Linked DNA regions of Homo sapiens. The protein of the gene in region 6 purifies or fractionates together with the protein of the main gene of each other region. This does not show direct contact. Each region holds a gene or a part of one and is shown on either strand. Other genes may lie near its edges.

What was found.
Region 1: the proteins of SLC9A7 (region 6) and EMC2 purify together in Homo sapiens (affinity purification with mass spectrometry; one large-scale study listed by BioGRID and IntAct). This does not show direct contact.
Region 2: the proteins of SLC9A7 (region 6) and VRK2 purify together in Homo sapiens (affinity purification with mass spectrometry; one large-scale study listed by BioGRID and IntAct). This does not show direct contact.
Region 3: the proteins of SLC9A7 (region 6) and PNPLA6 purify together in Homo sapiens (affinity purification with mass spectrometry; one large-scale study listed by BioGRID and IntAct). This does not show direct contact.
Region 4: the proteins of SLC9A7 (region 6) and ERLIN1 purify together in Homo sapiens (affinity purification with mass spectrometry; one large-scale study listed by BioGRID and IntAct). This does not show direct contact.
Region 5: the proteins of SLC9A7 (region 6) and UPK3BL1 purify together in Homo sapiens (affinity purification with mass spectrometry; one large-scale study listed by BioGRID and IntAct). This does not show direct contact.
Region 7: the proteins of SLC9A7 (region 6) and ADCK2 purify together in Homo sapiens (affinity purification with mass spectrometry; one large-scale study listed by BioGRID and IntAct). This does not show direct contact.

The regions. Positions count from the first base shown.
Region 1 is NC_000008.11:108,446,597-108,450,123, forward strand, and holds part of EMC2 (ER membrane protein complex subunit 2), read left to right. Parts: intron 1-3,226; coding exon 3,227-3,340; intron 3,341-3,527. UniProt on the Homo sapiens protein: Part of the endoplasmic reticulum membrane protein complex (EMC) that enables the energy-independent insertion into endoplasmic reticulum membranes of newly synthesized membrane proteins.
Region 2 is NC_000002.12:58,137,301-58,140,827, forward strand, and holds part of VRK2 (serine/threonine-protein kinase VRK2), read left to right. Parts: intron 1-2,365; coding exon 2,366-2,532; intron 2,533-3,527. UniProt on the Homo sapiens protein: Serine/threonine kinase that regulates several signal transduction pathways.
Region 3 is NC_000019.10:7,549,200-7,552,726, forward strand, and holds part of PNPLA6 (patatin-like phospholipase domain-containing protein 6), read left to right. Parts: intron 1-707; coding exon 708-913; intron 914-1,098; coding exon 1,099-1,230; intron 1,231-1,317; coding exon 1,318-1,441; intron 1,442-1,794; coding exon 1,795-1,908; intron 1,909-2,162; coding exon 2,163-2,238; intron 2,239-3,527. UniProt on the Homo sapiens protein: Phospholipase B that deacylates intracellular phosphatidylcholine (PtdCho), generating glycerophosphocholine (GroPtdCho). This deacylation occurs at both sn-2 and sn-1 positions of PtdCho.
Region 4 is NC_000010.11:100,149,574-100,152,318, reverse strand, and holds the end of ERLIN1 (erlin-1), read left to right. Parts: coding exon 1-188; 3' UTR 189-2,225; downstream 2,226-2,745. UniProt on the Homo sapiens protein: Component of the ERLIN1/ERLIN2 complex which mediates the endoplasmic reticulum-associated degradation (ERAD) of inositol 1,4,5-trisphosphate receptors (IP3Rs).
Region 5 is NC_000007.14:102,636,510-102,639,803, reverse strand, and holds the end of UPK3BL1 (uroplakin-3b-like protein 1 precursor), read left to right. Parts: intron 1-604; coding exon 605-681; intron 682-969; coding exon 970-1,090; intron 1,091-2,170; coding exon 2,171-2,279; 3' UTR 2,280-2,779; downstream 2,780-3,294.
Region 6 is NC_000023.11:46,598,730-46,602,124, reverse strand, and holds the end of SLC9A7 (sodium/hydrogen exchanger 7), read left to right. Parts: 3' UTR 1-2,874; downstream 2,875-3,395. UniProt on the Homo sapiens protein: Golgi Na(+), K(+)/(H+) antiporter. Mediates the electoneutral influx of Na(+) or K(+) in exchange for H(+). May contribute to the regulation of Golgi apparatus volume and pH.
Region 7 is NC_000007.14:140,689,922-140,692,781, forward strand, and holds part of ADCK2 (uncharacterized aarF domain-containing protein kinase 2), read left to right. Parts: intron 1-838; coding exon 839-892; intron 893-2,860. UniProt on the Homo sapiens protein: The function of this protein is not yet clear. It is not known if it has protein kinase activity and what type of substrate it would phosphorylate (Ser, Thr or Tyr).

The DNA.
Region 1 (3,527 bases), on a different chromosome or scaffold from region 6:
ATTAACAGAAGGTGGAATTAACAGAAATGTGAACATTGGGAAGGGAGGCCATATTTTTAGGAAATGAAGATGACTTGATTTTCGGATGCTGTGATTTTGAGGTAATGAGCTATCAAAGGTGAAAACATGTTTTCTTCAAGATGGTTTTATTTTTACAAATAATTTTTTTAGATAAATGTATTTAAGGCATTTCTAAAAGTAGTATGTGGTTAATAGTGCTACAAATGTATTTATTACAGCAGCACTCAAGAGTGTGGCAGGGTCAGCTATGTAAGGTGTATAGCTTAAGGTGTTTATAGGTAAAATGTTGCTTGTTTTGTAAGTTATATTTTCATACACAGTGTTTCTTGTTTTGTGTTCAGCTATTATATTTTAATATGTGACTGTGTGTCAGACTGCCGTTCTTAGAAGTTATGCTTTAAAAAAAGTTCTCTTTCCTATGAGTGTTTTTTCACAATAAGAAACACCTTTTACAAATTAACTCATACTCAATTAAGTATACCTATACATGAATCTTTGAGTGTATGTATAAACTGAAACCAAAGTTGCATTTACAAAGGATTCTAATGAGTATTGCTTCCATTCTGTTCATTTTGTTTCATTCTCCCCCACTGCCCCCCCACCCCCAACAGATGCTGGAAGAAATCCACTGAACCGATTTTATACCCTATTAATGGATTGTAATACACAGTTTGAAAAATACGTCTTCTGGAGCTCTGTGTGCATTAAAATAAATTAACCCTTTCCTTTTTCAAATCAGGTTGCCTTTTCTTTTAGAATAGCTGTTCCCAACAGCCTGCAGCCAATCTGACTAGATACTTTTATGGGACCATGAATAATTTAAAATTTATTATCCTGTAATTATCAACCTTTTAAAAGAATATGCTGGTTTATGTAAATGAATCTGTAAGTGGTATTTCCGAATATATAAAAAAATGAAGTGGAAAAGATACAGGATTGGAGGAAGTAGTTTTGGACTAAAGAAATCATAATTAAGTAGCAGGCATATTTTTCCATCTTTCAGAGGCCACCTCACTGCAGTGACATCTCATGCAAGTTGTCATGGAAGGAATAAACAGAACAATCATAGCGACTCTCTTAACCTTTGACCTTTAGCTCATCTCACAGGATTGCACAGTAGTTAATAAAATGTACAAGCAAGCAGTGAGAAGCTTACTTACATAGTATGTAATAAAATGACCTTGGCTTTGAGGAGCGAGCTTTTTGCAGGAAGGTGAAAGGGTAAAATGAAAGTTTTAAGCCACCTTTGAGGAAAGAGTGAGGGAAGAGCCTTTATTTCTTGTGAGAGGCTGAAACAGTTACCAGATTTTTTTAAAAAATAAAAGTAACTAGAATTTTTGTAGGGCTTCACATTTTATAAAATGCTTTACACGAATTTTCTAGTGTTTGGTGTCCTAAACTCAAGGGCCAAGCAGATGAAAATACATGTAGTTGGGTGAAAGACAATAGTGGTGCCTGTGAAGAACTGGTAAGTGTATACCCTTATCTAAGGGTAATCAAAATCAACTTAAAAACAAAAATATCCAAACTATTGTACGAACCAAGCAACTTTATATATATTTTATGTAATCTTAACTGCTCATCCCTGAGCTAAAGGTAATATTATCTCTATTCATTGGTATTGGAAACTAAGTACAGATTCGGTAAGTTATGTAAGGTCATGTAAAAGATGGAGTTTAGATTCAAACCAAGTGTATCAAGTCCATGTTCTTTCCAGTATACTATACGTCCTCTATGACTGGTGATATGGTTTGGCTCTGTGTCCCCACCCAAATCTCATCTTGTAGCACCCATAATTCCCATGTGTTGAGGAGGAGACCCACTGTGAGATGATTGAATCATGGGGACAGGTCTTTCCCATGCTGTTCTCATTATAGTGAATGGGTCTCACAAGATCTCATGGTTTTAGAAACAGGAGTTTCTCTACACAAGCTCTCTTTCTTTGCCTGCTGCCATCCACGTAGGATATGACTTTTTCCTTCTTGTCTTCTGCCATCATTGTGAGGCCTCCCCAGCCACGTGGAACTGCAAGTCCAGTTAAACCTCTTTCTTTTGTAAATTGCCCAGTCTCGGGTACGTCTTTATCAGCAGTGGGAAAACGGACTAATACAACCAGTTTCTTTTCTTTGAACTGTTTACTCCTTTCCAGTTTATCTTCTGGGGCTTTTTGTTTTGGTTTCAAATTTATTTATTTTTAAAATTGACATATAAAATTTAAAATTCTAGTGGTTTCTTTTTTTTTGCACCAGAATGATTTTCCTGTCAGACAGCCATGATTGTGTTGCTTTTCTTTTGCTCAGCATTTTTAAGTTGTTCTTCTGTACCTTTAAAAACAAACTTTAAAGTTCTCTAGTATGAAATAAAAGTCTTCCAAGAAACTCACTCTTCTTACTTCTTATACACTCATTTCCTGATCCTAGTGTGTTTATTTAATTCCCAGCTACCAGTAGTTCTTTCTGTATAGGATAACTTACTTTGTTATATGCCTGTTGAACTCCTTTTTCAACCTTTAAGAGACAGGGGTCTTGCTCTGTTGCTCAGACTGGAGTGCAGTGGTGCAATCACAGGTCACTGCAGCATCAACCTCCAGGCTCAAGTGATCCTCTCACGTCAGTCTCCTGAGTAGCTGGGACCACAGGCGGGTGCCACCATGCTGCCTTTTTTTTTTTTTTTTGAGACAAAGTCTTGCTTTGTCACTCAAGCTGGAGTGCAGTGGCACGATCTCGGCTCACGCAATCTCTGCCTCCTGGGTTCAAGCGATTCTCCTGCCTCAGCCTCCTGAGTAGCTGGGATTACAGGTGTGTGCCACCATAGTTGGCTAATTTTTGTATATTTAGTAGAGACAAGGTTTCGCCACGTTGGCCAGGCTGGTCTTGAACTCCTGGATCAAGTGATTGTCCTACCTTGGGCTCCCAAAGTCCTGGCATTACTGATGTAAGCCACCGTGCCTGGCCCATTCATCACTTCTAAAGATAGTCATAATACCAGTTGTAATGCTGTTTCAGTCTTCTAAAGGATCTGTTGCCCTTGTTCAATTAATTTTCTACTTTATCAAATTTGAGATACCACAGACTTCTACATGATTGTGAGTTTATTTTCCTTACCTAAAAAGCTGATTTTGTCTTGTCAGGTTTTTGACATCTATCGGATGTGTATGTGTGTGTCTGGGTACATATACACTTAAATGTCATGTTATTTTTTTCAGAAATGAGAGATAAAATGAGAAAATGGAGAGAAGAAAACTCAAGAAATAGTGAGCAAATTGTGGAAGTTGGAGAAGAATTAATTAATGAATATGCTTCTAAGCTGGGAGATGATAGTAAGTTCTTTTATTACATTCAGGCTCAGTACATGCCTCATTCATGGGCCTTTTTTTTTTTTTAACTGTTCTTTCATTCATGATTTTTCTACTTGTCATATTAATTTTCTTTGTGACTTTTTGTCCCAAGAATTTTAATGATAGTTTATTTTGAGAAGGATTTATAATTGCTTGGTAGTAGTAAGCT
Region 2 (3,527 bases), on a different chromosome or scaffold from region 6:
CAATCCTGCAGAAAAAGGAACTGTTCAGTTTAGGGTAAGAAAGCCCAGATGCCCTGAATTGTACAAGACAAATGCTTGTGGGCAGTGTATATTATGTCATACTCTATTGTTAAAGATTTGAGTCAGATGAGTAATCTAGATGGGAGACAAGCCCAGTTTTTGTTTCTTAGCACAAACCATTTTATTGAATCCATACTATTATTTATAAAATGCAGATTTCTGTTTCTAAAGCAAAAAGTGTTGAAACTTTAATATTACATGAAGGTCTCTTAAATTAGGAGGTTGTGCTTAGGAAGAACACAACCATGAAAATGAAGGAACTGATTTACAAAAGTTTATTACCGAAACATTTTATGAAATAAAACAGCCAGAAGTTTGCAGCATACATGTCCAACTAAGCATAATAATAATAGTTTCAAAAGTTTCTATCTCTTGATAGTAATGATACTTAATACTTCACTGGCTTAAAAAGCAGATGATTAAAAAAATCATAATTTCATACTAAAGGCATTTTGCTTTATAGTTCTGGCAATATGCTAGTAAATTTTAAAATGTACTTAATAAATCCAGATCTTGAAAGACTAACATTTAAACCAGTATTACATCACAATATCTACGCTTCAGGTTTGTAATAATAAATTTATAATGGAAATGGCTCTTTTTATTTTCTCCCCCTCCTACCTCACTGGTACCTCATTTTTCCAAACCCCAGTCCCATGAAGGCTTTGCAGCACAGCTGCTATCAGTTGGTGGAGTGCCAGGAGTTTTCCATTGTCTTGTAACAGTGATTTGTTCCCAGCACATTCAACTCTCTTCCTCATTTTGGATATTCTGGTTAATGGAATTGTAATATGTACCAAACTTGGCTTACCAATCTTCACAGGACCATAAAACAAAAATATTTATATTAAAATAGTAGTGAATGTAATTTAATTTTTTAATCATCCCTTTAGAAATTGGATACCCCCGAGCCCTTGTGAAGGGGCTGCATGAAGCATCAGTTATAAATATGGTGATAAAATAGCAGCACTTGCTAGTTAACAGAGATCTGGTTGACCGAATGCTAGATAACAGAATTTGATAAAAATAGATGAAAAAAACAGGTTGCATAATTGCTACAGTGTCAAGGAAGAAAAGCCCAGAACCAAGAGTTTACATTTTAACCACGTTAGCTTCATGTTCCCAGGAAATAGCTCTGTACTATATGGTGAAAGTGGTCACTCTTAACTTTAATAGGGGGAAAGCGATGATGACTATTCCTTTTGAAATTTTTCTCTATAGGGAGTGAAACCCAGTGCCTCTGCAGTTTTCCTTTCTTTTGAGTGGAGGTAGGCCTAGAGGGGAAGTGAAGGATTAGGAAGTCACTCCTGCCAACGCATGAAGTTTCCCAGGTTTTCCCACCATGGATATAAGCAACTAAGTGAGAAAGTAAGAAGTACTTGAGTTTGAGTCAGTAATATATTTTTGAAAGGGAAAGGCATATCTAAACATCTCTGTGAACAAATGAAAACATGCCAGTTTTTAAATAGTATTTGGTATTATCACCACTTCTATTCCAATTTTAGGTTGAACCTCAACATGAAACAGAAATGCAAGCTACAAATATTTTAATGCAGTGATGTTTGTAACTGTTGGTTACTAATTCTGTTTGTATTTAAAAGTTGGTAGTTCCTAACCTTTTTGGGGAAAGGGGGTTTACTATGTAGTTCTAGGGGAACATTTCTTTACACTAGAGAAAAAATAAAAGATGGCAACTCCTCCTCCCACTGCTCTAAAATCAAAAACACGAGGCTGTGTACCAGGCTAGCTAGGTATGGAGGACATGAGGGAGGTTTCATACATTCTAAATTCAATCTTAGCTAACAACATGGAATTCAAGGTCCTTTCTAAATATACGGTTATAATCCCAAAATCAAAGCCTTAATTAAAATTTGCAGTTTTTTTCCTTAGAAATAAAGAGGTTTATAATAAGTAACACTTTAACTGAATTTTTAGAAGTTCAGCATAAAGTGTGAAGTATGGTCAGTTGTATTATTTATGTAGTCCTTAATAGTTGCACCTCATAAATCAAAATCACTATAATTATTACAATATACTTCCTCTCATAAGATCAGTGAATTATAAGCGTATCAACAAAAATATGTTAAAAACATTACTAGTTTGTCTCATCAATTCTGTAGGTCACTATATTTCAGTCATTTTTGAATATCATTTAAAAAGTTATTTTCATTGAATTGTTCATTTTTAGTTTCTTCAGGAGATGTAAATGTGTAAAAGACAAAGATAACAAAGATTTTGAGATTACTGGAGTCTTGACAATTCTTGCCAATTGTGAATGACATGTAAAAAATTTAATAATTCACAGGTGAAATAGCCCAATTTTTGGTATGTGCTCATAGTTTAGCATATGATGAAAAGCCAAACTATCAAGCCCTCAAGAAAATTTTGAACCCTCATGGAATACCTTTAGGACCACTGGACTTTTCCACAAAAGGACAGAGTATAAATGTCCATACTCCAAACAGTCAAAAAGTAAGTAACATAATCCCTGCTATCCTATGATTACCTTCTATGATACTTTTCTATCGAATGAAATTGTTTTAGGTCTCAAAATGAGTCTGACAGCTTTCTTCTTCCTTATATTTAACTCCCATTTTGCCTAACTCAGCACCAAGAAAGTTTGTTCCAAGTTCTTTTGACCTGTTGTCTCACAGAGAAAAATAGGATCTGTGGCCTACTATGTACTATGAAAGAAAGCAGTCACTACTGTCATAGAGATGTGACTAGGGTAAAGGCTAATCTGATGTTACTCATGAGAAAGCCATCATTTGCTTCTTTTCTCCAGGTTTTCTTTAGATATTGCCCTGTGTTTTTGCCTACCAATTTGGCCATAATTTGGTGATAACAGTCTTCGATTTAACCAGGTTATTTGTATGTGCTGATATTTCAATCCATGGAAACAGTTCTTTACAGAAAATAAAAGAGTTTATGCCAGAGATCTAGGTTAAAAAAAATCATTTTTTAAAAGTTACACCTCTTCTTTTAGTCTGCCATCTTCCCAAAGACCAACACCAACTTAAAAAAAAAATTAAGATTTCGAGCATTTTTAAGCGGGTGGTGGAAATCTTAGACTGCCGTTATTAGCAAGAATAGTGGACAGGCAACTCAGCATCCATGTCTTCCTTGACCACTATCCGTATGCACAAATAGAGTGTGGAGGGCATTTTTTTCCTGATGCATGTACAGTAAGATAGGGTCAGGATGCTATTCATTTTTAATATTTCTTATGAACTTTGGATCATCACACGTGTTCATGAGCCAAGAATGCGGGATGCAAACTAATGTGACTGATAGGCTGCTAGATGAATGGTGAGTCAAGTATCAGTGCACAGATGGTTCTGATTTGCTGAATTTTGTAGTTGCTGCAACTGAAGACATAAAATATCCTTCTAGTCATAAATTAGCTCTTTGGAAGCAAAACCTTGGCACCAGAGCTTTACAACCTTCAATTAGTAGGAAAAGAAGTA
Region 3 (3,527 bases), on a different chromosome or scaffold from region 6:
TTTTTGAGACGGAGTCTCGCTCTGTCGCCCACGCTGGAGTGCAGTGGCGCGATCTTGGCTCATTGCAAGCTCCGCCTCCCGGTTTCACGCCATTCTCCTGCCTCAGCCTCCCAAGTAGCTGGGACTACAGGCGCCCGCCACCACACCCGGCTAATTTTTTGTATTTTCAGTAGAGACGGGGTTTCACTGTATTAGCCAGGATGGTCTCGATCTCCTGACCTCTTGATCCGCCTGCCTCGGCCTCCCAAAGTTCTGGGATTACAGGCGTGAGCCACCGCGCCTGGCCTTCTTCTTCTTTTTTTTTTTAAAGACAGTGTCTCACTCTGTCGCCCAGGCTGGAGTGCAATGGCATGATCTCAGCTCACTGCAACCTCAGCCTTCCAGGTTCAGGCAATTCTCTTGCCTCAGCTTCCTGAGTAGCTGGAATTACAGACATGTGCCACGACGCCCAGCTAATTTTTTTATTTTAGTAGAGACAGGTTTCGCCACGTTGGCCAGGCTGGTGCCGAACTCCTGGCCTCAAGTGATCCCCCCTGCCTGGCCTCCCAAAGCGCTGGGATTACAGCCGTGAGCCACCGCGCCCTGCGCCTTCATATTTTTCTTAACCCTTCCTTTCTTCTTTAATTTTTTCCTGTGGGGGCATGTTGACCTGAGCTGGGGTCCACGCTGTCCGGGTTCTGTGTTCATCACATCCCCTGCCCGCACAGGACGTGAGCCTGCACTTCGTGCTCTGGGGCTGCCTGCACGTGTACCAGCGCATGATCGACAAGGCGGAGGACGTGTGCCTGTTCGTAGCGCAGCCCGGGGAACTGGTGGGGCAGCTGGCGGTGCTCACTGGCGAACCTCTCATCTTCACACTGCGAGCCCAACGCGACTGCACCTTCCTGCGGATCTCCAAGTCCGACTTCTATGAGTATGACAGCCCGAAGTTGGAGTGTGGGTGGCACTCGGAGGACCCCAACCCGTGGGAGTGGCCAGAACCCCATCCCTCAACCTCACTCCTGGAAGAGCAGAAGGGAGCCCCCAGATCTGGCCTCCCAGCGCCGGTGTAGGACGGTTTTGAGGCCTTCCTCTTTCATCCCAAGTCTGTTCCTGCAGGATCATGCGCGCACAGCCCAGTGTGGTGCTGAGTGCGGCGCACACGGTGGCAGCCAGGATGTCGCCCTTCGTGCGCCAGATGGACTTCGCCATCGACTGGACTGCAGTGGAGGCGGGACGCGCGCTGTACAGGTGCAGCTCCCACCGCGCTGCTCAGGCCCGGCCTAGGGGTGGGGACCTGGGGGTGGTCAGACCTTGCTGACCTCCACGCCCACTCAGGCAGGGCGACCGCTCCGACTGCACTTACATCGTGCTCAATGGGCGGCTGCGTAGCGTGATCCAGCGAGGCAGTGGCAAGAAGGAGCTGGTGGGCGAGTACGGCCGCGGCGACCTCATCGGCGTGGTGAGCGCGACCCCCACCCACTGACCTCTGGCCTTTTCCAGGCCAGTCCCTCGACAACTCACACACATCATCCCGGGTAATCCAGGGAGTGGTGAATGCAGCTCCCGACCTCTGAGGTCACCCAGTCCACTCCCCGCCCAGACCTCATTTCGTTGGAAAAAGGGGATTCCGCCTGTCGTGGATCCCTGTCCTCTCCCTCTCCCCAGAGCTCTAATGGGTAGCGAGCGAGGCTTGCTTCCCTACACCCCCATTGCAGGGGAGCCCTAGATGGGGCAGTACAGCCCCCTTTCCACCCATCTTCGGCCTCCTCATTCCCCACCCAAGCAGCCCCAATCATGCACGCGGCCCCCCAGGTGGAGGCACTGACCCGGCAGCCGCGAGCCACGACGGTGCACGCGGTGCGCGACACGGAGCTGGCCAAGCTTCCCGAGGGCACCTTGGGTCACATCAAACGCCGGTACCCGCAGGTGCGGCCTGTTGTGGGCGGGGCAGAGAGGCGGAGGCGGGACTCCGGGGGGGTGGGGGCCGGGCCTAGTGTGTGGGCGGGGCTTACAGAGGGGCGGGGTCGAGGGAGGGGCCGAAGCGAGAGAGTGAGGGCGGGGGCTCTCGGGGGTGGGACCCAGGTAACGGGCACCCAGGAGCCCCGGCATAGGAGGGAGAGGTGGGACCTGGACAGCCGCTTCCCAGGTCTCACTGAAATGCCGGCCTCCAACGCCCCCAGGTCGTGACCCGCCTTATCCACCTACTGAGCCAGAAAATTCTAGGGAATTTGCAGCAGCTGCAAGGACCCTTCCCAGGTGAGAGCCGGCCGGCCCAGAGCGTGCTGGGAGATGTAGTCCGGCGTCCAGAGCATGCTGGGAGGGAAGCCTTCTTTCCTGAGGGATGCTGGGAAATGGAGTTCCGCGAAGAAATCGTGCCCCTGAGGGTTTCAAACCCTAAGTAGGACCCAGGTGCAGAGCATTCTGGGGAATGGAGTTCGTGTTCCTGAGCATGCTGGGAAACGAAGTCCTCGACCCCTGGCGTGCTAGTTAATGGGCTCGAAAGTAAATCAGTGGTGCCGGGGAGGGAGTCTTAGGCGGTGGACTTGGCGTAGTCTGCCCGGGAGTCAGGGCTTGCTGGGGAAGTCCACGGCCTGGACGTTGAGAGAAAGGGAGTCCTAGATCAGAATATGATGGCAGGGCCGTCATGGTGGCTCATGCCTGTAATCTCAGCACTTTGGGAGGCTGAGGCAGGAGGATCGCTTGAGCCCAGGAGATTGAGTTTGAAACCAGCCTGGGCAACATAGTAGGACCCCCGTCTCTACAAAAATTTCAAACATTAGCTGGGCTTGGTGACACATGCCTGTAGTCTCAGCCACTCAGGAGGCTGAGGCGGGAGGATTGATTGCTTGAGCCCGGAGGTCGAGGCTGCAGTGAGCCGTGATCGTGCCACTGTACTCCAGCCGGGATGACAGAGCTAGAACCTGTTTCAGAAAAAATAAAACAGCAAACAAACAAAACTCCCCATACCATGATGGAAAATAGTCTGTGGATTGTTGTTTAGGACTCTGGGCACCTCGCCTTCTGAAGTTACAGCTTGCTGGGAGATGTAGCCCCCTGTTTCAGCCTGTGGCTTCAGTGAGCTAGAACAGAATGGGGCGTGCGGTGGGGTTGGAGGCCTGCTGAAATGAGGGCCTGAGTTTCTACATTGTGGTGGCCAGATTCTGGGCCAGCCCAGCAACCTAGATACCCCTTTTCCCTCCAGGGGTTCTACCCAATTGGCCCTGAGCCCTAGATCCCCCAAGGCGGGGGCAGGGCGGTAGTGGCAGAAAAGACATCATTAAGAAATTACAGAGGCCTGGGGCGGTGGGTCACGCCTGTAATCTCAGCACTTTGTGAGGCTGAGGCAGGTGAATCACTTGAGGTCAGGGGTTCGAGACCAGCCTGGCCAACGTGGTGAAACTCATCTCTACTAAAAGTACAAAAATTAGTCGGGTGTGGTGGTGGGTGCCTGTAATCCCAGCTACTTGGACGGCTGAGGCAGGAGAATCGCTTGAACCGGGGAGGCAGAGGTTGCAGTGAGCCGAGCCTACGCCATTGCACTCCAG
Region 4 (2,745 bases), on a different chromosome or scaffold from region 6:
AGTACCAGGCCATTGCTTCTAACAGTAAGATCTATTTTGGCAGCAACATCCCTAACATGTTCGTGGACTCCTCATGTGCTTTGAAATATTCAGATATTAGGACTGGAAGAGAAAGCTCACTCCCCTCTAAGGAGGCTCTTGAACCCTCTGGAGAGAACGTCATCCAAAACAAAGAGAGCACAGGTTGATGCAAGAGGTGGAAATGTTCTCCATATCAAGATGTGGCCCAAGGGGTTAAGTGGGAACAATCATTATACGGACTCTTCAGATTTACAGAGAACTTACACTTCATCTGTTCCACCTCTCCTGCGATAGTCCTGGGTGCTCCACTGATTGGAGGATAGAGCCAGCTGTCTGACACACAAATGGTCTTTTCAGCCACAGTCTTATCAAGTATCCTATATGTATTCCTTTCTAAACTGCTACTCATGAATGAGGAAAGTCTGATGCTAAGATACTGCCTGCACTGGAATGTTAAACACTAAATATATAACAAGCTGTGTTTTCCTAAGCTGAGATCTGTTGAATAATGTTTACATTCGTCCCCCGGGGAAATGTATGCTCAGCCACCATTCAAGAGATGACTGAGAAGGAGATGGTAAGTTCAAGAAGACTGATTGCACCTGGGACCCAGGCCCTTTCTTTGGGATCCAGTCCCAGCCTTCATCCATGTGATTAAGATCCAGGCCGCTGAAGTTCCCCAGGAAATGATCTTCCACTTGAGCAACCTTTTACTTGATACGATTTGCACCTTTCTGTTTTCCTGCAGTCAGGGTGGTGGCCTGCAGGGACCTGAGCTTTGCTACCCAACCAGATTCCTCATAGAGATTCCTAATCACTAGTTTCTTGTATTCATAAACTCAGAGATACAGAGGGCTTGGTTTGAAGTTGGGGTGAGATGAAACCTTTGCTCTGAGCCAAAGCTCTGGGGCCTTGCATTCCCTGCATTGGGTTGATGACTGTCAGCATCACTGCCGCAGGCCATGCTTGACTAAGGTACCTGGTTTTAGCCACAGCCACCTCCTTGTATGTTACCTTTCAGCTCTGGCCAAGAGTGGGACAGGGTTTTAACCACAAATAGGAGCAGCATGCAATTCCTAGTGACTTGCTGCACAGTATTGTATCATAATTACAGGAAGTTTTTATTTTTAAAACTGGATCTGGGGTATATTCATTTGCCCCATCACCTCTGTCTAAAGGCCCAAGTCCTAGGGCTGCCATGGTCACAAGCACACTGATGCTCCTTAAGATTGTTTATCTGGAGCCCACATAGTGTGGAACAAAAAGTCACCTAGAAAGCATCCTTGGTCATCATTGTCTCCTTCCCACCTGGCCCAGAGATGCTTAAATCCAAGTTGTTTCTCCAGCTGTCACCTCCCCCAGGAGATCAGGATTCCACTGACGTCCTGGGCAGCCAGTGAATTTAATTTTCCATGAGAAACAACAGAGTTAACCTGTGGCATTAGGAGACCTACTTCATGTGGACCCTTTTTTTCCTTCAGTTTAACTTTTCTGGAGCAGTGTGCTGCGTAGTTCGGCCTGAGTTTGTGCAGCTTGTTAAGACAACTCTTGTGTACGCTATGTTGAAGCTCAACAAAAAAGTCATGGGACCACTTCTAGAAATCTTTCAGCTGTCAGGCCTGTCAGTCTCATGACAGTTTGTTGGTTGTGCCAAACACTTTATTTGGGAAAGGAAAGCCCAGATTTGAATGGGTCTTTCCCCTGGGCCTTATCCTATAGAGGCATTTGTAATATGGAGAAAATAATTTTTCATTTTTGCTCATTTAATTCTATAAATTCTCTTTATAAATGAATTTTGTGTTCTTTAGTTCTCCTTAAAAGAACTTTTGAATTATAAAAATAAAATCTTTACCTGTCGAATTGTTGCTGCAGATGATTGTTGTGGAAAATCTGGATCATTGACCTCTGTGCTTTCATTCCTAGAGATGTTTTATAGTTACATGAGCAAAAGCTGTTGCCCCAAAGTGATGGCCCTGGAGGCGGGGCTGAGGAACAGGGAAATGCCGCTGTGAAGTCTTAAAGCACTTCTGCTTAAACTCCCATGTGTGAGGAGTGTGCCTCCCTGTGCCCTCTCAGCTCTGAGGCTGGCCGTCTTTCGGGGTGTTCCTTTTGGCAAATATACACTGTAATCTTGAGTCTAAATTTATATGTTGAAATGCTACCTTTTTTAAAATAAGAAACTAAATAAAATTATTTTACTATCAGTGATTTGTGTTTTTTTTTCCCACGTCTTCATTTTTCTGTCATCTTAACATGCTCCTAAGGCTGTCTTGCACATTTCAACTAGGGAGCCAGTTTATTTGCGGGTTTAACTTAACTGTAGAGGCTTTTGTTATACTCTTGCCAGAATACTGCCTACCTGGTATAAGAATGTTTAAAACAAGGTGTCCACTCTTTGCTGACTCCTGGAATTTAACAAGGGGTGTTCTTCTAATCCTTTGTGGGACAGGGCCTGTGGCAGAGGGGCAAGGAGGGAGGATGGAGCATCAGGCCACTGGGATCCGTCCCTGAGAGCAAAAGTACTTCTGCACTGAGGAGGGGAGGAGACAGACCAAGCCAGAGAAGGACAATTTGTGTAAATTATAACTGGTAATGTAATGGCACAATATAACCAACTTGACTATTAAGATGTTAGCGGCCCAAGAGCCAGAGTTGGACCTGCTCTTCCCAAACGTTCTGTATTTCCTCCTGGGATCAATTTCCTGGTGATCTTGGGCCAGCAGG
Region 5 (3,294 bases), on a different chromosome or scaffold from region 6:
CTTTTTGTATTTTTAGTAGAGACAGGGTTTCGCCATGTTGGCCAGGTACCTGCCACCATGCCTGGCTAATTTTTGTAATTTTAGTAGAGATGAGGTTTCACCATGTTGGCCAGGCGGGTCTCAACTCCTGGCTTCAAGTGATCTTGAAGGCCCACCTTGGCCTCCCAAAGTGCTGGGATTACAGACGTGAGCCACCATGCCTGGCCTATCCTGCTTTTCTTGAGCAGAAGGTTCCCCACCTCAAGCCCCAGTCCCCACAGGCTGTGTGGACCACTCAGGTGGCGTCTCTCCATCCAGACAGGGTCTCCCCTCACTAAATGCTTGATTCACGCATGTTCAGTTCTGAGACATCTAATACTCGCCCTCTACCTTTCCCAAATGAGGACACAGAAGCCCAGAGAGGGGGAGGGACGTCACACCACTGGAAATGTCACACCTAGATTTGAACCCATTCTGTTGGGCTCTTTCGCCCCAGCCTCCGGCCCCCTCCCCGGGCTGCTCTCGCCAGGGCCTGGGACTCCAGGGGACAGACTTGCAGGCACCAAGTCTGATGGTTTCAGGACTCCGGGGGACCCCCATGTCCAATGCTGGGTCTCCCATTCAGGGTGAAGTTCCTGGTGATGAATGACGAAGGACCCGTGGCTGAAACCAAGTGGTCCAGCGACACTCGCCTGCAGCAAGGTAGGGGCCAGAGGCTCCGGTCAAACAGTAGGGGCAGGGGGCTGGGGCCTGGGGGTCCTGAGGACTGAGGATGGGCTGGGGGAACAGGTCAGCTCACCACTGAGTCAGAGGCAGCCAACCATCTTGCAATCTGCAGGCGCCCCTCCCCCAGCCACCCCCTTCCCCCAGGCCTGGGTGGTAGTAGGGGAGGCAGGGCGGTGATTGGTCTGGATTCTGCCCAAGGGCCCCTTCCGGTCAGGTAAAATTTCTTTTCCTGCCCGCCTGTGCGGCCCCCATCACTGCCCTCAGCCCAGGCACTTCGGGCTGTCCCCGGCCCCCAGAGCCCGGGCACCGTGGTCATCATCGCCATCCTGTCTATCCTCCTGGCCGTCCTCCTCACGGTCCTCCTGGCTGTGCTCATATACACCTGGTGAGTGGACCGGGCTGAGACCGCCCATGCCTCTTGGGAGGGGCGGGGCCCTTGGGCATTAACCCCTCCCTCTCTAGTTCCTCCCCGCCCGCCCCTGCCCACCTTCCAAGCGGGCACTGTGCACCCCCTGGTGGCAGCATCTGGGATTGCAAGTGGGTGCCGCCTGCGGACACCCCAGTCGGGGAGGCGCCCAAGGAGGAGGTGAATTGCTTTCACACCAAGCTCTGAGCATTGCCTCAAGACGCCATACAGGCCGGGTGCGGTGGCTCACGCCTGTAATCCCAGCACTTTGGGAGGCTGAGGCCCGCAGATCACCTGAGGTCAGGAGTTCAAGACCGGCCTGGCCAACATAGTGAAACCCCAGCTCTACTAAAAATACAAAAAATTAGCCGGGTGTGGTGGCACGTGCTTGTAATCCCAGCTACTCAGGAGGCTGAGGAAGGAGAATGGCTTGAACCTGGGAGGTGGAGGTTGCAGTGAGCTGAGATTGCATCACTGCACTCCAACCTGGGTGACAGAGTGAGACTCCATTTAAAAAAAAAAAGGGGGGGGTGTCAGGATTTCATACAGAGCTCAGGTGCCTGAGCCTGGGGCACAGAGAGTGTCCACAAGGCTTCCTAGAGAAAAGGGGAGACCTAGCCCTGTTGGGATTTGGGGAGGAGGGGGAGAGGGAGTGACTAAAAAGGGGGTGGGGAGGTGTGGGGGCAGGAGGGGCAGGAGGGGTGCATGCAGCCAGGCCAGGCCAGGGGCCCCAGGTGCCTAGCTGAGGAACTGGGCTGTATCCTGCAGCCTATGGGAGCCGGGAGTGGGTTTTGATCAGGGGAGACAGGCAGATAATGTTTGAGCGGGGTCCTGAGGTGTGGAGGGTGGAGGGGGAGAGTGATGGGGAGCAGGAGCAATGAGCTAGATTTGTGAGGTTTGAAGGAATCGCCTCAGTCCCTTTGGTTAATTCTGCCCAGCCAGTGGAGTCTCAGTTTCCCCTATGCGATGGGTCAGAGCATGCTAGCCAATGGCTGTGGGATCTCGGCCAGAGCCTTTCTTCAGCATCCATCATCTCTCCCTCTCTCCTCCCCTCCCAAGCTTCAACAGCTGCAGGAGCACTTCCCTATCAGGCCCAGAGGAGGCAGGGAGTGTGAGAAGATACACCACGCACCTCGCGTTCAGCACTCCTGCCGAGGGGGCTTCCTGAGGGGTTCCAGAGGGGCCCACGTGTCCCTCCACCTCCTCCCTGGCCCAGGCTGCAGAGCCTGAGCTGGGACACGCCCTGAAGCTTCTGGACCCTGAGAGAGATTGTTTCTTTTCTTTACTATTTTTTTTTTTTTTTTTTTGAGACGGAGTCTCACTCTGTCGCCAGGCTGGCGCGATCTTGGCTCACTGCAACCTCTGCCTCACGGGTTCAAGCGATTTTCCTGCTTCAGCCTCCTGAGTAGCTGGGACTACAGGCACACGCCACCATGCCCAGCTCATTTTTGTATTTTTAGTAGAGATGGGGTTTCACCATGTTGGCCAGGATGGCCTCCATCTCTTGACCTTGTGATCCGCCCGACTCGGCCTCCCAAAATGCTGGGATTACAGGCGTGAGCCATCAAGTCTGGCGAGAGAGATTGTTTCTAGATGAGGGTGGGGGCGGGTGTCCTTAGCCCAAAGCTTGTGCCAGTCTCTATCGGAAATAAATGCCCCCAAAACCTCCCTGCCTGTCCGTGACATCATACACCTGGGTAGTCTTTCTGCACCACTGCCCCTGGCTCCTCCTCCTGAGGAGGTCCCCAAGGGCGTGTAGGACCAGGGCAAGGCTCAGGATCCTAGAGAAATTGTCACCTGGGGCAGGACAGGCCTCTCTGCCAGCCTTACTGTCCCTATCTGTAAAATGAGGATGGTAACCCTGAACCCACAAGGCCACAGTAAGGCTAAACCAAGGTGAACATGCCTTGGGAACTGTGAAGACTGTGGACCCAAAGCCGGTTGCGGTGGCTCAGGCCTGTAATCCCAGCACTTTGGGAGGCTGAGGCAGGAGGATCACTTGAGCCCAGGAGTTCGAGACCAGCCTGGGCAACATGGTGAAACCCCATCTCTACAAAAATGACAAAAAATTAGCTGGGCTTGTTGGCGGACTGTGGACCTGAGATAGGTGCTCCTCTTGTCCTGCCCAGACAGCCTCCTGGTAACCAAAGGCCACGGGGCAGCATGGCTGGCACTTGCTATCT
Region 6 (3,395 bases):
GGTATTGTCTTAACTGAGCTGCTAACTAATCAAGCATGAAGGTTTCTGGGAAGCTGTTTTGTTTTTTTTTTTTAATTTCACCTGGAATTAAATTAATAGTCCCCTCTGGAGTCAGATTTTCTTTTCCTTCACCTATCCTCATGCCTGAGTCCACACTGGATTCCTCAGAATAAGGGTGGGCCCATTTACTGCTGGAGCAAAGTAGAAGGTTGTGGTCCTTTGCTATCACATGGTGATGGTGGTGGTTTCCGTAGCAGGTAATTAAGGAGATGCACACTTTTGTATAGCCCTGACAGAGAGAAGATGAAAGCTGCTATTCCTTTTAGTACACTTTTTGAGAACTACCAGAAACCTGAACTTTCTCTCCTAGGGAAGAAAATTTGGAATTTAAATAAGGCCACATTTCTTCCTAGGACACAATCACAGGAAGGGCATATGGATCCGAGCATCCAGGGTGGTTACTGGGGTGATCAGACAAATAAGCATTGATGCCTGGAAGGCAGAAATCACACTGCGACATCAAATGTTTCATCAAGCAAACAGCAAGGATCTCTTCAGGCTGTGTTCTCTAGACCCGAAAATGTCCTCTGTGGTTTGGCTGACAAATGGAATCTCTTTAGAAAACATGCAAAAGGGTATCTCAGCTATCCATGAACGATTCGGTCTAGGACAAAGAACTAACAGTTCCTTCCAAAATAGAGGTCTGTTGGTCTGTTTGACGTCATCCCATCATCCTATCTCTCCCTGTCCTTGTCTGCAGTAGAAGTTAATGTAATCATACCAGATGTTTAATGTGAACAAGTAATTTCCAAATGTAGAAACACCACTGATGCACTTAGGGGGAAAAACAGTGGCAGGGTGTTAGAGCATCTCATCAGAGGTGAAAATCACCCACTTGGAAACCTACTGTGCACCCGTTGTGAGTTCTAAGAGTGTATCAGAAAGCTGATTTTACCATCTGTTGTGAAAGATTATCTGCAATGAGGGCTGCTAGAAAGTCAGCCTGCTGATCTCACAAGTATATGACTTCTTATTCCACTTCAAAAGTGGGGAACTTGACAAGTTTCTTGTCTGCCTTTTGATGTTGATTCTATAGATTAATTAGTTCAGGAACAAGTCTTTCATATACATTAGACTGGTATCATTGAGTTCTGAGCTATTCTGTTGTTCTTTAACTGACACTCTGGATTGCCAGTGTCGGCTGCTACATTCTGATACAGTAAGTCAAAGGAATCTAGTGGCCAAGAGTTGTAGTTTAGAAACAACCCATCTGAATACTGCTTTTACCACTTTGATACCTGAAAAGATCATCCCCCTTTCTAAAACCTGAAAACAACATATAGAGAAATACTGTAGAAACCATTGCTAGTGTCTTAACTAGGAAAAGCAAGTAGACTCATCAACAATCCTTTCAAAACAAGACCTAGAGATAAACAGTTTTTTCCAGTGTCAATTTTCATAGACATTTTTAAAAAATTAAACACATCTTGTCACCCAGTGCTAGCAAAAATTGTAAAGAGCAAAACCAAAGTTTTTGATGTTAGTCTTATTTTTGTAAGCAGGGTATACTATAGTCGTGGCCCATATGGAACACACAGGCAGCCGGTTTTCTGCTACCTGAGCCTTGGAGAAGATGAGAAGGAAGGGCTGCCTGCTGTGCTGCCCTTTGAAAAGGTCCAAAGCAGACAGGAGCGCACACAGCAGAAGTCACCTTCTCCTTCTGATGACCACCTTTCAAAAGGCTTAACAGAATCACCAAGTGTCACAGTCAGCTCTTGGCCAGTGGAAAATTGTCTGGGCCTGTATATGTTGGAGGAACTCAGATAGAAAAGGACTTGTAAACAGCATGGAAACCTCAACATCTGCTGTCTCAAGCACTTAAAAAAGGCTACAATTCAGGTGTTACTGGATGACTTAACTGCATGGACATTTAGGGGCTGACTTGTGTTGTGATTATTCCAATTGTGGGCTTTGGAGAAGCAGAGGGATGATTTTCAGTTGTGTGGGTGTTAAGTCTATGGATTGGGAATTTACCACTGAAATTGATCGTTCAAAGTGTGACTTCATAGTAGGGCCAGCTCCTCCTAAGTTGTCCTTTTGTTTTTCACATAAAATACATCTGGTACTTTTTACTTGGAAAGTTGTACTATGTCCATGAAAATGGTTAAATGAGAAGGCCATAAAGATTCATTTAATAGCTGAAAAGCAACTTTTAAAATAGAATAGGACGAATTTAACATGGAATGATGTGACCTTCTAGGGAACTTTTTATAGAGAGCTTACATAGTGTAATTGGGGAGAATTTTGTCTTCTATTTCCATTCAACAGTAGCAAACTGGTGGTTTTATAAAATTAACATTATAGTATGTTATATAAATAAACGTTATATAAAATGACATTAAAGTATAACTGTGAAAAATTAAAGACTTGGCGTTATCCACAACCTTTATGTGCAATAAGGAAAACTGCAGTAGGCCCCCAAAGTGCCGTCTTTCCCTAGCATTTTACTCAATGTTTGCCTTTGTGTATGTTTAGATTGCTATTGTAAAGCTAGCCATGTGTGTTCCTGCCCTTTACTGATATTTAACACATTTTCTCAAAGCTTTTCTTTTTTTAAAAAAACAAAACTCAAAATAAAACAACTAACTGGCTGAGCTAATTTTGTTTTGTATTTTAAAGTAAAGTATCATCTGTTGGTAGAAGGCTGTAGTGTGATACTATTCTTAGTCTGTTTCCCTCACTGAGAGGTTCTTTTCTGGGTGTAAGCTATTCCTCTCCAGCTTTCTTTAGGCCTGGGGTTGGCAAACTACAGCTGGCTCCTGAACCAAGTCCAGCCCACTGCCTTTTTTTGTAAATAAAGTTTTATTGGCATGACTAGGCTCATTCATTTGCTTACTGTCTGTGGCTGCTTTCCTGCTACAATGACAAAGCTGAGGCGTTGCAACAGAGATCATATGGCCCATAAAAAGTAAACAGCTATTTACTATCTGGGCCTTAACAGAAAAAGTTTCTGCCAGCCTCTGATTTAGATGCTTGAAGAAATTCAGTTTTAAAATAGGGCTGGGCACAGTGGCTCACACCTGTAATCCCAGCATTTTGGGAGGCCAAGGCCAAGGTGGGTGGATCACCTGAGGTCAAGAGTTCAGGACCAGCCAGGCCAACATGGTGAAACCCCGTCTCTACTAAAAATACAAAAATTAGCCAGGCATGGTGGCATGCACCTGTAGTCGCAGCTACTCAGGAGGCTGAGGCAGGAGAATCACTTGAACCCAGGAAGTGGAAGTTGTTGCAGTGAGCCAAGATCGTGCCACTGCACTCCAGCCTGGGTGACAGAGCGAGACTCTGTCTCAAAAAACACAAGATGTAAAAATCACAGCAACAGATTTTTGAGACTT
Region 7 (2,860 bases), on a different chromosome or scaffold from region 6:
CTTAGGAGGCTGCAGCTCCTTCCTCATCCAGGGGTCGCTGTTCATTTGGGGACAGCCAAGCATACAGGGAGGGAGGACTGTGGTCTCCAAGCAGCCAAATGATGTGCCCAATGCGCATGTCCCTTATTTAAACCCAAGCCAGAGCCTGCTTTGTATTTTATACACAGTTCTAGCAAATGTGACTGTTTTATCCCCAAGTTCATGGCCACATTAGCAGGAATGGGTCAGACAAGGAGTGGCCACTGGCACGCTGGCCCTGCTGATAGTCTATCCAGGTGTGATTTTTTAAAAATTTTTTTGAGATGGAGTCTTGCTGTATCACCCAGGTTGGAGTGTAGTGATGCTGTCTCGGCTCACTGCAACTTCCACCTCCCGGATTCAAGCGATTCTCCTGCCTCAGCCTCCCGAGTAGCTGGGATTACAGGCACCCGCCACCACACCCGGCTAATTTTTATATTTCTAGTAGAAATGGGGTTTCACCATGTTGGCCAGGCTGGTCTCGAACTCCTGACCTCAAGTGATCCGCCCGCCTTGGCCTCCCAAAGTGCTAGGATTATAGGCAGGTGTGATTTTTGTGGTTGCTTCAGGGATGGGGTGGGTGGGGCTCAAAGGCTTGTCTTCCAAAGGCCTCTGTGACCGAGTCTTGAGGTGGAGTTGGGCTTGTGCTGGAGGAGTCCTTTCAGAGTTTGTCAGATGGTCCCTTTTGTGCTGACTGGTGTATGTGTGCCCTGGCGGGGGAGTGGGGTGGGATGCTGGGGCTGAGAGTGTGGGGGTGGTGGGAAATGAGCGGTTCTGGAAGGCTCGGTGGTCTGCATTAGCCTTTATTTTGTTTTTCCAGCTTCATGTGTCCAGCCTTCTCTCTAGTGTCTTTAAGTTGCTGATGACTCACAAGGTGAGGGCCATTCAGAGGGGAGGTCTCTGGGGAAGGTGGGACGGGGCAGGGAGGAATGGGAGGACACAGGGTGGTGGGAGGCGCTTCTATTATATGGTTCTTGTTTTTTGTTGTTGTTTTTCTTTTTTTTGAGACAGAGTCTCACTCTGTCGCCCAGGGTGGAGTGCAGTGGCGCGATCTCGGCTGACTGCAGCCTCTGCTTCCTGGCTTCCAGTGATTCTCTTGCCTCAGTCTCCTGAGTAGCTGGGATTACAGGCTCCCACCACCACGCCTGGCTAATTTTTGTATTTTTAGTAGAGACGGGATTTCACCATGTTGGCCAGGCTGATCTCGAACTCCTGACCTCAGGTGATCCACCCTTCTCGGCCTCCCAAAGTGCTGGGATTACAGGCGTGAGCCACTGTGCCCGGCCTATTATATATTTTGAAAGCATTTTTAGTAACAAGCCATTTGCAACAAGTGCTTCGTAGCTGTTAGTCTATCTGTCAAGTCAGTGCAGTCTAAGTATCTGTGACATTTAAATGTAGAAAAGTGTATTTAAAAATGTAGAAACAGCCTACCTCTGGCTTTTCATGTCTTTCCCTCCTTGGTTCACTTTCATGATGCTTGTGTTAATGTAAGTCATGCTTAGCTCTTTCCTGGTGGAATGAAGTCCTGGGGTCCAGAGGCCGCTCTAGAGGGTCATGCCTTGTGTCCTGGTGCTTTCAGAGGCCCTAGCGGGACTGCTGTGGCCCCTGCCTGGCTGCTGTAGTCCATTAGAGGGAGCTGGCCTCATGGTTCATCTTAGCCTGTGCCCCGGCTCTGTCGCCTTGTCATGGAGCCTAGTCTCCGGCACTCTTTAAACTAAGGCTGCTGGCCAGGGACAAGCAGTGTTGAAGGTGGAGAAGGGAGGACCTCGTTGGAAGATGGCCTTTTCCATTGCATTACTTAACTATATGACATCTATTAGTAACCAATTTATCCCCTCAGTCTTCCAAGAGGCAGGCACCAAAGCCGAGAGGCCGAGCAGCTCACCTGTGGCCATGTGGGCAAGCCCCCGCCTGCTGCTGGGTCCTCCCGCCTCCGTGGCTCACTCTGAGCATCTGCTCCCCACACAGTTTCCAGCACGGTGGGTGAGGGGCCTTGAGTGTTTGCTGCTGCTGCTGCTGTTCCCAGGATGGAAGAGGAGACAGAGGGCCTAGGGCAGCTACTGCACTCCAAGCACTTCACTAGGCACTTAAGTTTGAAAACATTTACAAATTTTTCATTGTGATGAAAAACACATAAAATTTAACCCCCCAACCCTCTCCAGATGCATAGTGTTAGCATTGTGCAACAGATCTCTAGGTCTTTCTCATTTGGCAGAGCTGAAACTCTACAGCCATTGACCAGCTCCCCATTCCCCTCTCCATCCGGCCCTGGGAACCACCATGCTGTTTTACGTTTCCATGATTTTGGCTACTCTTGATATTTCATATAAGTGGAATTATAAAGTATACTGTCCTTTTGTGATTGGCTTGTTTTACTCAATATAATGTCCCCAGGTTTCATCCATGTTGTAACATGTGACAGGATTTCCTTTTGAGACAGGGTCTCACTGTGTCACCGAGGCTGGAGTGCAGTGGTGCAAGCTTGGCTCATTGCAACCTCTGCTTCCTGGGTTCAAGCAATTCTCGTGCCTCAGCCTCCCAAGTAACTGGGATTACAGGCAAGTGCCACCATGCCCAGCTAATTTTTGTATTTTTAGTAAGAGATAGGGTTTCGTCATGTTGGCCAGGCTGGTCTCGAACTCCTGACCTCAAGTGATCCACCTGCCTTGGCCTCCCGAAGTGCTGCGATGACAGGCGTGAGCCACCGCGCTTGGCCTGTTATTCTGTTGATGCTGTTGATGTTCACGTGGGTTGCTTCCACTTCTTGGTTATAGTGAATAATGCTGCAGTGAACATGAATGTGTAAATATCTTTTCAAGATCCTACTTTCAAATTTTAG